2 separate regions of the Homo sapiens genome follow, and region 1 is linked to region 2. The links come from fine-mapping of genetic effects on gene expression. A gene starts in region 2. The other region holds a variant in brackets. All regions are shown on one strand. Distances are from middle to middle.

Region 1 (5,379 bases), 38 kb before region 2:
ATAGGCACCCACCACCACGCCTGGCTAATTTTTTGTATTTTTAGTGGAGACTGGGGTGTTTCACCATGTTGGCCAGGCTGGTCTTGAACTCCTGACCTCAGGTGATCCACCCACCTAGGCCTCCCAAAGTGCTGGGATTACAGGCGTAAGCCACAGCGCCTGGCCCATCTCTATAATTCTCTATGGGAACAGACTCCCCTGCCTGTCATACATTACATCTGTTCTTGCCATGTATTACAGCAATCTCACCCAGCATTCTTCTGGCAGTGAAGTGTTGTCACCTGGCCTCTATTATTTCAGGACTCATCCTCATTAGTATTGGGAACATAGCTCTGTAACATCATCTCCCACGATCAGCCCACAGTCACCACCAAGCTTCTTGCTGATGCTGGTGGCCCCATTGAACAGCACATTCCTCCTCGTTTGGATAAACAGAAGGTGCCCACGGCTCCCCTGTGGACTGCGGTGACCTGGTGGGTTTTCTTTCCTCAGTAGCATATCCACTCCAGCATGCCTGCTTCTCTGAGCCACCTCATTCCTGTATCCACTATTGCACGGCATTTCTGGCAGTTCTGCTTTCCTGGGGGATATTGCTTTTTCCAGGCTTCCATGAGACCATTGAGTGGAGTGTTAGTACTATCTTCACCTCCTTGCTGGGGTGTGAATCCCATACCCCACAGCAGCACTCTCGCATCAATAAACTTCCCTTTATCCAACTTTGTCCCACTTGATGCAGCATGAGGAGAGCCAGCCCCGTGTGTCTCCCCAGCACCTACTGGACATTTGGCCACGTCCTGTGGTTCCTTCATGTATCATTCTTTCCTCCCTTAGTAGACCGAGTATCTTCCTGTCAGATGGCCAAGCAGCAGCCCCTAAGCAGCAGCCCCTAAGCAGCAGCCTGGGGGAGCCACAGCTGCTATGTATCAAGCACAAGGCAAGGCCTGGCTGACATGCATGGTCAGGAAAGCAACAAGGAGCCATTTTTTAGATCAGGCAGTTTATATTACTCATACAGATGGTGAAAGCGCAAGTAGACAGAGGTGCCAGGTCCCTGTGACCCTTGCACAGGGCGGCACCAAAACAACAGGGGCCAAATGGCAGCAACATGAGTGCCAGGTGAAGCCCATACCACACTGCAGCCAAGCAGCTTTATAGCTGGTAGCTATGCACATGCTCTCAGGGATGGGAAGGCATAATTCTAGGTGGTCCCCAAATTCCCACTCCCTCATATACATGCCTTGTATCATCGCCTCCCGTCGAGTGTGGGTGCTAATTCTAAGCTACAGACAAGCATTTTCCCCTTCCTTCCTAAGCTACAGCCAAGCCTGCCTGCCTGCCTTCCTTCCTTCCTAAGCTACAGTCAAGCCTGCCTTCCTTCCTCCCCTCCCTCCCTCCTTTCTTTCCCTCCCCTCGCCTCCCCTCCCCTTCTCTCCCCTCCCCTCCCTTCCCTTCCCTTCCTTTCCCTTCCCTTCCCTTCCCTTTCCTCCTTCTCCCTCCCCTCCCCTCCCCTTGCCTCCCCTTCCCTGGCCTCCCCTTCCCTTCTTCTCCCTCCCCTCCCCTCGCCTCGCCTCCCCTCACCTAACCTCTCCTCCCCTTGCCTCCCCTCCCCTCCCTTTGCCTTCTCTTGCCTTCCCTTCCCTTCCTCTTTCTTTTGACAGAGTCTTGCTCTGTTGCCCAGGCTGGAGTGCGGTGGTGTGATCTCATCTCACTGCCTCGGCCTCCTGAGTAGCTGTGATTACAGGCATGCGCCACCATGCCCAGCTTCTTTTTTTTTTTTTTTTTTTTTTTTTGTATTTTTAGTAAAGACGGAGTTTTCCCCATGTTGGCCAGGCTAGTCTCAAACTCCTGACCCCTAGTGATCTGCCTACCTTAGCCTCCCAAAGTGCTGGGATTACAGGCATGAGCCACCGTGCCTGGCCCAGCCAAGTGTTTTCTAGTCTGCAGCTATACTCAGAGGAGGGCAAGGCATGGAGTCTCATGCTTACCAGAACCAGGGAAGCAGGTGATAAACTGGCTCGGGAGAGTTCTGAAGAAGACTGCCCATCTTGAAACCGCCTTTGCCAAAATTATGGGGAATTATGACAGTGAAATAGATCAGACCTAACTGACTCCATCTTGCTTCTAACCTCTAAACTGTCCTTATCCATTCCTGGGCATAGGCCGAACTAGCCTTGGGAAGGAATTTAGTTTATAGTTTAAATAACAGCCCTTCCCAAAAGCAAATCTGTTCTTGTAAAACGAATGAAAGGCCACCAGCCACCAAGTTAGGATGAGAGGGGCTGGAACTCTAAATATTACCAGCTGTTACGTGGAAGGTCATGAGATTTGCAACTTCCCTGATTACTCTTGAAGATAACATCACCATTGTGAACCTGAGATTGGCCTTTTGAGATGTCTTTTCAGGTTTTTCCATTTCTGACAAGTGGTTGGCCTCACCTGGACCTGCCAACCAGTTCTGTGGCACTCACCCAGGAACTGACTCAGCATAAGAGGATAGCTTCGACTGCCTATGAGTTCATCCTCAAGCCAACCAATCGGTGCTCCTGGCTCACTGGACCCCTACCCACCAAATTATTCTTAAAAACCCTGATCCCTGAGTTTTCTTTTCTTTTCTTTTTT[T/C]TTTTTTTAATTATACTTTAAGTTCTGGCAAACATGTGTACATCGTGCAGTTTTGTTACATAGGTATACACGTGCCCTGGTGGTTTGCTGCACCCATCAACCCGTCACCTACATTAGGTATTTCTCCTAATGTTATCCCTCCTCTAGCCCCCGACCCCCTGACAGGCCCCGGTGTGTGATGTTCCCCTCCCTGTGTCCATATATTCTCATTGTTCAACTTCCACTTATGAGTGAGAACATGTGGTGTTTGGTTTTCTGACCTTGTGATAGTTTGCTGAGAATGATGGTTTCCAGCTTGATCCATGTCCCTGCAAAGGACATGAACTCATCCTTTTTTATGGCTGCATAGTATTCCATGGTGTATATGTGCCACATTTTCTTAATCCAGTCTATCATTGATGGACATTTGGGTTGGTTCCAAGTCTTTGCTATTGTGAATAGTGCCACAATAAACATACGTGTGCATGTGTCTTTATCATAGAATGATTTATAATCCTTTGGGTATAAGCCCAGTAATGGGATTGCTGGGTCAAATGATATTTCCAGTTCTAGATCTTTGAGGAATCGCCACACTGTCTTCCACAATGGTTGAACTAATTTACACTCCCACCAACAGTGTAAAAGCATTATTTTTCCACAACCTCTCCAGCATCTGTTGTTTCCTGACTTTTTATTTATTTATTTATTTTTTTATTGAGACAGAGTCTCGCCATCTTTCCCAGGCTGGAGTGCAGTGGCACGATCTCAACTCTTTGCAAGCTCTGCCTCCTGGGTTCACGCCATTCTCCTGCCTCAGCCTCCCGAGTAGCTGGGACTACAGGCACCTGCCACCACGCCTGGCTAATTTTTTTGTATTTTTAGTAGAGACAGGGTTTCACTGTGTTAGCCAGGATGGTCTGGATCTCCTGACCTCGTGATCCACCCACCTCGGCCTCCCAAAGTGCTGGGATTACAGGCTTGAGCCACCGTGCCCGGCCTGTTTCCTGACTTTTTAATGATCGCCATTCTAACTGGCATGAGATGGTATCTCATTGTGGTTTTGATTTGCATTTCTCTAATGACCAGTGACGATGAGCATTTTTTCATGTCTGTTGGCTGCATAAATGTCTTCTTTTTAGAAGTGTCTGTTCATACCCTTTGCCCATTTTTTGATGGGGTTGTTTGCTTTTTTCTTGTAAATTTGTTTAAGTTTTTTGTAGATTCTGGATATTAGCCCTTTGTCAGATAGATAGATTGCAAAATTTTTCTCCCATTCTGTAGGTTGCCTGTTCACTCTGATGGTAGTTTCTTTTGCTGTGCAGAAGCTCTTTGGTTTAATTAGATCACATTTGTCAATTTTGCCTTTTGTTGCCATTGCTTTTGGTGTTTTAGGCATGAAGTCTTTGCCCATGCCTATGTCCTGAATGGTATTGCTCAGGTTTTCTTCTAGGATTTTTATGGTCCTAGGTCTTACATTTAAGTCTTTGATCCATCTTGAATTGATTTTTGTAAAAGGTGTAAGGAAGAGGTCCAGTTTCAGTTTTCTGCATATGGCTAGCCAGTTCTCCCAACACCATTTATTAAATAGGGAATCTTTTTCCTATTGCTTGTGTGTGTCAGGTTTGTCAAAGATCAGATGGTTGTAGCTGTGTGGTGTTATTTCTGAGGCCTCTGTTCTGTTCCATTGGTCTATATCTCTGTTTTGGTACCAGTACCATGCTGTTTTGGTTACTGTAGCCTTGTAGTATAGTTTGAAGTCAGGTAGCATGATGCTTCCAGTTTTGTTCTTCTTGCCCAGGATTGTCTTGGCTATGCAGGCTCTTTTTTGGTTCTATATGAAGTTTAAAGTAGTTTTTTCCAATTCTGTGAAGAAAGTCTGTGGTAGCTTGATGGGGATAGCATTGAATCTATAAATTACTTTGGGAAGTATGGCCATTTTCACGATATTGATTCTTCCCATCCATGAGCATGGAATGTTTTCCCATTTGTTTTTGTCCTCTCTTATTTCCTTGAGCAGTGGTTTGTAGTTCTCCTTGAGGAGGTCCTTCACATCCCTTGTAGGTTGGATTCCTAGGTATTTTATTCTCTTAGTAGCAATTGTGAATGGGAGTTCACTCATTATTTGGCTTTCTGTTTGTCTGTTATTGGTTTATAGGAATGCTTGTGATTTTTGCACATTGATTTTGTATCCTGAGACTTTGCTGAAGTTGCTTATCAGCTTAAGGAGGTTTTGGGCTGAGACAATGGGGTTTTCTAAATTTACAATCATGTCATCTGCAAAGAGAGACAATTTGACTTCCTCTCTTCTTATTTGAATACCATTTATTGCTTTCTCTTGCCTGATTGCCCTGGCCAGAACTTCCAATATTATGTTGAATAGGAGTGGTGAGAGATGGCATCCTTGTCTTGTGCCGGTTTTCAAAGGAATGCTTTCAGTTTTTGCCCATTCAGTATGATATTTGCTGTGGGCTTGTTATAAATAGCTCTTATTATTTTGAGATATGTTCCACCGATACCTAGTTTATTAGAGTTTTTAGCATGAAGGGGTGTTGAATTTTATCAAAGGCCTTTTCTGCATCTATTGAGATAATCATGTGTCTTTTGTCTTTGGTTCTGTTTATATGATGGATTACGTTTATTGATTTGCGTATGTTGAACCAGGGTTGCATCCCAGGGATGAAGCCAACTTGATCATGGTGGATAAGCTTTTAGATGTGCTGCTGGATTCAGTTTGCCAGTATTTTATGAGGATTTTTGCATCGATGTTCATCAGGGATATTG
Region 2 (5,379 bases):
CAACAGCACTGTGAGTTAGAAGTCTCAATCTCACCCCTTTACAGATCAGGAAACTGAGGCAGATAATTTATTTGCCTATGGTCACAGGACTAGTGAGTGACAGAGCAGGTGGTTTGGTCTTACAGTCTATGTGTTTAACCACTACACCAAACCACCTCCCTAAGATGCTAGAGGGGGTTTGTGCCAATGCCTGGATTCTAAGAGATTAGATTCTCTTTAGGATCTCTGACCTGTTTCCTCAGCATTCAGAGATAAGGCCAGAAACAATGCCATTTGTGCACGAACTGACAACTGACGGTCCTCCTACCTCCTATTTCTATTTAAAAGGCACTGTAACTTCTTTCCACAGGCAGATCCCTACCTCTCCTCCCTTAGGGGAGGACGAAGGTGTCCCAGCCAAGGAAGATCCTGGTCTCCAAGGGCTGTACCCTACTGATCCGGAGGCAAAGCAGTGAGGGCCCACCCCAATTCCTCACCTCCCATTCTACTCTTCGGCAGAAGCATCTCAGTGTTGGAAAGATAAGGATTTCTTCCTAAAAAGGAAGGATTACACTATATCAGAGTCTGAAGATACAGTTTTCATTTGCAACGCAAGGGAATTCCTTTGAATCTCTACCTTATGATTTCCCTGCAAACCCACTCCGATGGGGCTGGAGAGTGCTCTCTCACTCAGATGAATCTCTCAGGGGTTGTCCAGCAGGTGTTTGCCAACTTGAAGAGCTACCTACTATCACAGACCTATAAAAGTACGCCTGTGGACAGACTGAAAACAAACAAACAAAACACACACACAAACACACAAAACAACCGCACACTGGGAGAAGTTCTAGGCAATTTCCTTGCAAATAACTGCTTTGAAAATTACTGTTTTAAATTGGCAGAACACTAAGGACTTTGAACAGATCATCCCTTTTACTCAATGTTTTCATAACCTTGAAGTGAAGGTGGAGGGAGCAGTACGTTTTAAGGTGCCAGGATTACACTACGGGGTCAGTGCTCCCGGATATGAACTTTCTTTTTCAGACCGACCTTGGGACCTACAGCTTTGTAAGTTACTCATACAACTCCATCAAATGTTACAGGTAGGTCAGAGGACATTCAGGTTGTTTAAGCCTCTATAAATGACTCAGGCAGCAACAATTTACAACGTCTTTGTTTCTGCTATGCAGTGCCCTCCTGCTAGAGATGGCAAAAATGTGGGGAGGGCTTCAGAGCATTCTAAGCCTGGTATTTCTGGCTGGAATTTTTAAATCTCACTACAATCCTGACAAGAGACCACGACCTTAATCTCCCACGGCATGACTGGTTAGTCTTGATCGTAAGCCATATAATCAACACCCAAATGTGCATAACACATCTAAATAATGTCAAAACTACACTATATACCACGCAGGGGACCAGAAATCAATCTTTACCTCAAAAGGATAAGCTTCCAGGATGCAATAACATCCCCTTCCACCCTTTTCTACACCCTAAAACAGTAATATTCACGGTAACAGCAAAGCGGAAATCAGCTTTTCCTGAACATGTACTGAATTCTAGTCACATTCACACACGTTAATTCATTTAATTCCAGCCACAAGGTAGGCAGCCTCTGTTAACATTTTACAATTGTGAGAACGCAGAGATCTGGGACTGGCTCAAGGTGACACACTGCAGCAAGGAGTCAGAATTTGAATCCGAAGCAGTGTCCTTCCCCCTCGCAACAGCTGCGGCGTTACAAACACAGGTCAGCCACGGAGAAATTAATGACCCACAGCCATCCTTGCAGCTCTGCGCCATAACTGGGGAGACAAGCTGGTTCCCGTGACTCTTCAGTCTGTTTTCACCCAAGTGCATGACTGCGGGAGCAAAGCGACCACGTGAGCATCCCCCCCCCACCCCCCCGCTTCCCCCAGGCGAGGGACAGTGCCAGGCCAAGGACAAGTCACAGGTGCAACAACGTGCCAGAACTGGATCCGGAGCCCCAGGGCGCAAGATCTCCCGCAGCGTCACCCGGCAGAGGGACGGGTGTGGCCACCGGGCGCGGCAGGTCCTGCGTGCGCTGAAAGTGCGGCTGGAGGCGCGGACGGCTTTCCGGAGCCCCGAGAGAGGAGCTAGGAATGACTTTGGTCGCAGCCTCTGTAACCCCGCATGACGGCCTCTAGGGGGACAGCGAGGTCCCCCTCGATCTCTGGCTGTAATCAGCCGGCGGGGCCAGACGGTGCCGAGACTCCAGGGCGAGGCCGCAGGGAGGGGGCTGTCCCGCCCCACGTGGACCGGCTCCCCGCTGGGGGCGTGGCCGCCGAAGCGGGCCGGGCCAATGAGCGCCACCGTCGGGCTCACCCGGCTGGGCACGCCGGGCCGAGGAGGGCTGCGTCATGCCGGGGGCGGGGCTTCGGGGCCGGCGCGAGGCGCGGCGGGGTCACGCGGGTCGCTGCGCGGGCTATAAGTAGGGGCCGGCGGGGTGCTCCGCTGGAGTGATGGCTGCCGGCGCTCTCTGCGTGGTTCTTCTTCTCGGCCGCTGAAACCCCCGCGGCTGCTTCCTGGGAAGGTCGTGAGTCCCGCTGAGCTGTCCCCGGTGCCGCCGACCCGGGCCGTGTGCCCGTGGCTCCAGCCGCTGTCGCCTCGATCTCCTCGTCTCCCGCTCCGCCCTCCCTTTTCCCTGGTGAGTAGTGGCGCCGCCTCGTAAAGGCTCTTTCTTCTCCCCGGGGCCGGGCGCGGACGCCGTGGCGCTGGAGGCGGACGCCGTGGGCGGCGCGGCTGGCTTCTCTCTTCGCCGCTGGCCGCCTCCACTCCGCCCGTCTGCCCGCCCGCGGGCCTTTTTGGCGGTCCCCGGGCGGCGCGCGCGGGAACGGCCCTTTTCCGATTTTCGCGCGGAGGGCGCGCGCGGGCTGGCAGCGCAGGGGCTGGGCTGGGCGCGCGCGGGCCGCGGAGGACCCGGAGCCACGTGCCTCTCCTTCTCGCGCGTCCTACTGGGGATGGGGGTCTGGAGTAGCCGGCAGAGGCTATTGCGGGACCCCGGGCGCGTGGGTAGAGCGGGGTGCCCCACTGGCCCCCCAGGGGCACGCAGCTATTGTTATTTCCCCCCTCCCCCGCAGGATGAACTTGCGTCCTTTCTCTTCTCCGCCATGGAATTCTGCTCCGTGCTTTTAGCCCTCCTGAGCCAAAGAAACCCCAGACAACAGATGCCCATACGCAGCGTATAGCAGTAACTCCCCAGCTCGGTTTCTGTGCCGTAGTTTACAGTATTTAATTTTATATAATATATATTATTTATTATAGCATTTTTGATACCTCATATTCTGTTTACACATCTTGAAAGGCGCTCAGTAGTTCTCTTACTAAACAACCACTACTCCAGAGAATGGCAACGCTGATTACCAGTACTACAGCTGCTACCGCCGCTTCTGGTCCTTTGGTGGACTACCTATGGATGCTCATCCTGGGCTTCATTATTGCATTTGTCTTGGCATTCTCCGTGGGAGCCAATGATGTAGCAAATTCTTTTGGTACAGCTGTGGGCTCAGGTGTAGTGACCCTGAAGCAAGCCTGCATCCTAGCTAGCATCTTTGAAACAGTGGGCTCTGTCTTACTGGGGGCCAAAGTGAGCGAAACCATCCGGAAGGGCTTGATTGACGTGGAGATGTACAACTCGACTCAAGGGCTGCTGATGGCCGGCTCAGTCAGTGCTATGTTTGGTAAGTTCTTTTTATGTTTTGTCCTCTTCGTGGTGGGTGAGCAAATTTGTATCATGGGTGGTTCCATTTTTGTGCATAACCTTTCCGATTAACCTTTCTGAATGTGCCACTTACATAATGGAATTTTGATATTTACTTAATAAAACTTTACTATGTTTCAGGTTCTGCTGTGTGGCAACTCGTGGCTTCGTTTTTGAAGCTCCCTATTTCTGGAACCCATTGTATTGTTGGTGCAACTATTGGTTTCTCCCTCGTGGCAAAGGGGCAGGAGGGTGTCAAGTGGTCTGAACTGATAAAAATTGGTATGTTTAATTCCAAACGGCTTCTTAATTTTCGTTTTCGTCATATGTTACCATGGCATTAGGTATGGGAGGATGTGTTCTAACGTCGAGGGACAGACCCAAGAATTTTGAACTCTTAAACATTTAAAGTGGTTTTTGGTTTCTGATTTTCATTATTTGATATTTTTTCTTAATGTGTTCTATTCCAGTGATGTCTTGGTTCGTGTCCCCACTGCTTTCTGGAATTATGTCTGGAATTTTATTCTTCCTGGTTCGTGCATTCATCCTCCATAAGGTAACCTTTCTCCCCCGTATGAAGACCTTTCATGGAGCACACCCAATCGATTTCAAACCCAGTGGTACTTTTGCAGATGTGATTGGTGTATAGGTATGCGGCCTTGGAAAATTTTAAAAAGCTCTTTGTTCTGTGCATTTCTTGTATGTTGTGGAGTTCTCTGAAAGCGAGTTTTTAATACTCAAGAGGGCAGTCAGGAAGGAAAAATTGAATACTATGATGTGCCAAGAAGTAGGAGAAACTGGGAGCAAAAAAATAAGGAAATTTATTTTGCGTGGTTTTGTGTAGCTGTATACACATTATTTGTTTAAACCACTGTTATATTCAGGCTAATATAATACGTAAACTTGGAGTTCAAGACAGTGTCCCCTGTGGCTTTTTTAACTAAGCTGCCAGTTAAATGGGTCTCTGCCGTGCTGATTATCATAACCAGTTTATAAGCTTCTAGATGAGGACTCTGCCTCCCATAGTGACTTGACTCCAATTTCTCAGAATAGTTGAAAAGAACCAGTTAAAGGTAGTTTTTGGCCCGCCCCCCAAAAAAACTTCAGGCAGCCATTTAATTTCCTGTCCATTTGAAAATCCCTTTTAAGTGACCCAGTTTGCATTTCTTTTATCAAGAAGTCTTGCTGGCTGCAAAATAAATGTTGACAAGGGATTATGTTGGCATAGGACTGAGTTACAGTGAGGATAAATGCATTTTTCTCAGGAAACAAAGTTGTCCTTTTTCTAAGGTGAATGGCTCTTAACAATCCATTGTAAGTTCTTAAAAGTGTTCCTAAACTGTAGAAATCTGAGGGAGATAGCATAAATCCCAGCAGGTAAGAATGTATTCAGACCCACTTGTCTGGTCTAGTTGTAAGCTTCTCTAGGGAAAGATTTGTCTCTTCTCTGTAGAAATTCTATGACTAGTAAAGTGATTCACTAATCACTGTTTTCCATAGCCAGAATCTGGCAGAATATAGCAGTTTAACACTTTGAAAACTTGAAATATCTTTAGCCTGGTATAATATGAGAGTAAACAGTTCATTGATATTTATGGACTCCTAAGTTTGGTACTGTTTTATTCAGCAGACAGGTACGATAAGCATCTACCTTCCCACTCCCTACAACTGTAGTGTAT

Which allele goes with the higher level. Positions count from the first base shown, and alleles are read on the strand shown. Sizes are in standard deviations (SD) of each study's normalised expression.
For the expression in naive CD4 T cells of the gene that starts at base 2,457 in region 2, T is the high allele of the variant in region 1 and C is the other (large effect, 0.93 SD a copy in Schmiedel 2018).

Evidence for each region. PIP is the estimated chance that this variant, and not a neighbour inherited with it, causes the effect.
Region 1: its variant is the best candidate, but not a certain one, in a credible set for the expression of SLC20A1 in naive CD4 T cells (Schmiedel 2018, PIP 0.81).

What each region holds. Positions count from the first base shown.
Region 1 is chr2:112,605,771-112,611,149 of GRCh38, forward strand. The region is part of intron 1 of LOC124907869 (a long non-coding RNA gene); the gene reads left to right. Among named protein-coding and RNA genes, the nearest start is that of CHCHD5, 24 kb to the left of the region's middle. The variant T/C (reference allele first, on the strand shown) is at 2,620.
Region 2 is chr2:112,643,483-112,648,861 of GRCh38, forward strand. It overlaps SLC20A1 (solute carrier family 20 member 1), which reads left to right and starts at 2,457. Exons shown (of 11, transcript NM_005415.5): 1 at 2,457-2,647; 2 at 3,081-3,680; 3 at 3,842-3,982; 4 at 4,171-4,256. The coding sequence starts at 3,347. SLC20A1-DT (SLC20A1 divergent transcript) reads right to left here and starts at 698. Exons shown (of 5, transcript NR_033871.1): 1 at 617-698; 2 at 477-533. RefSeq lists silencers at 2,119-2,948, 3,410-3,704.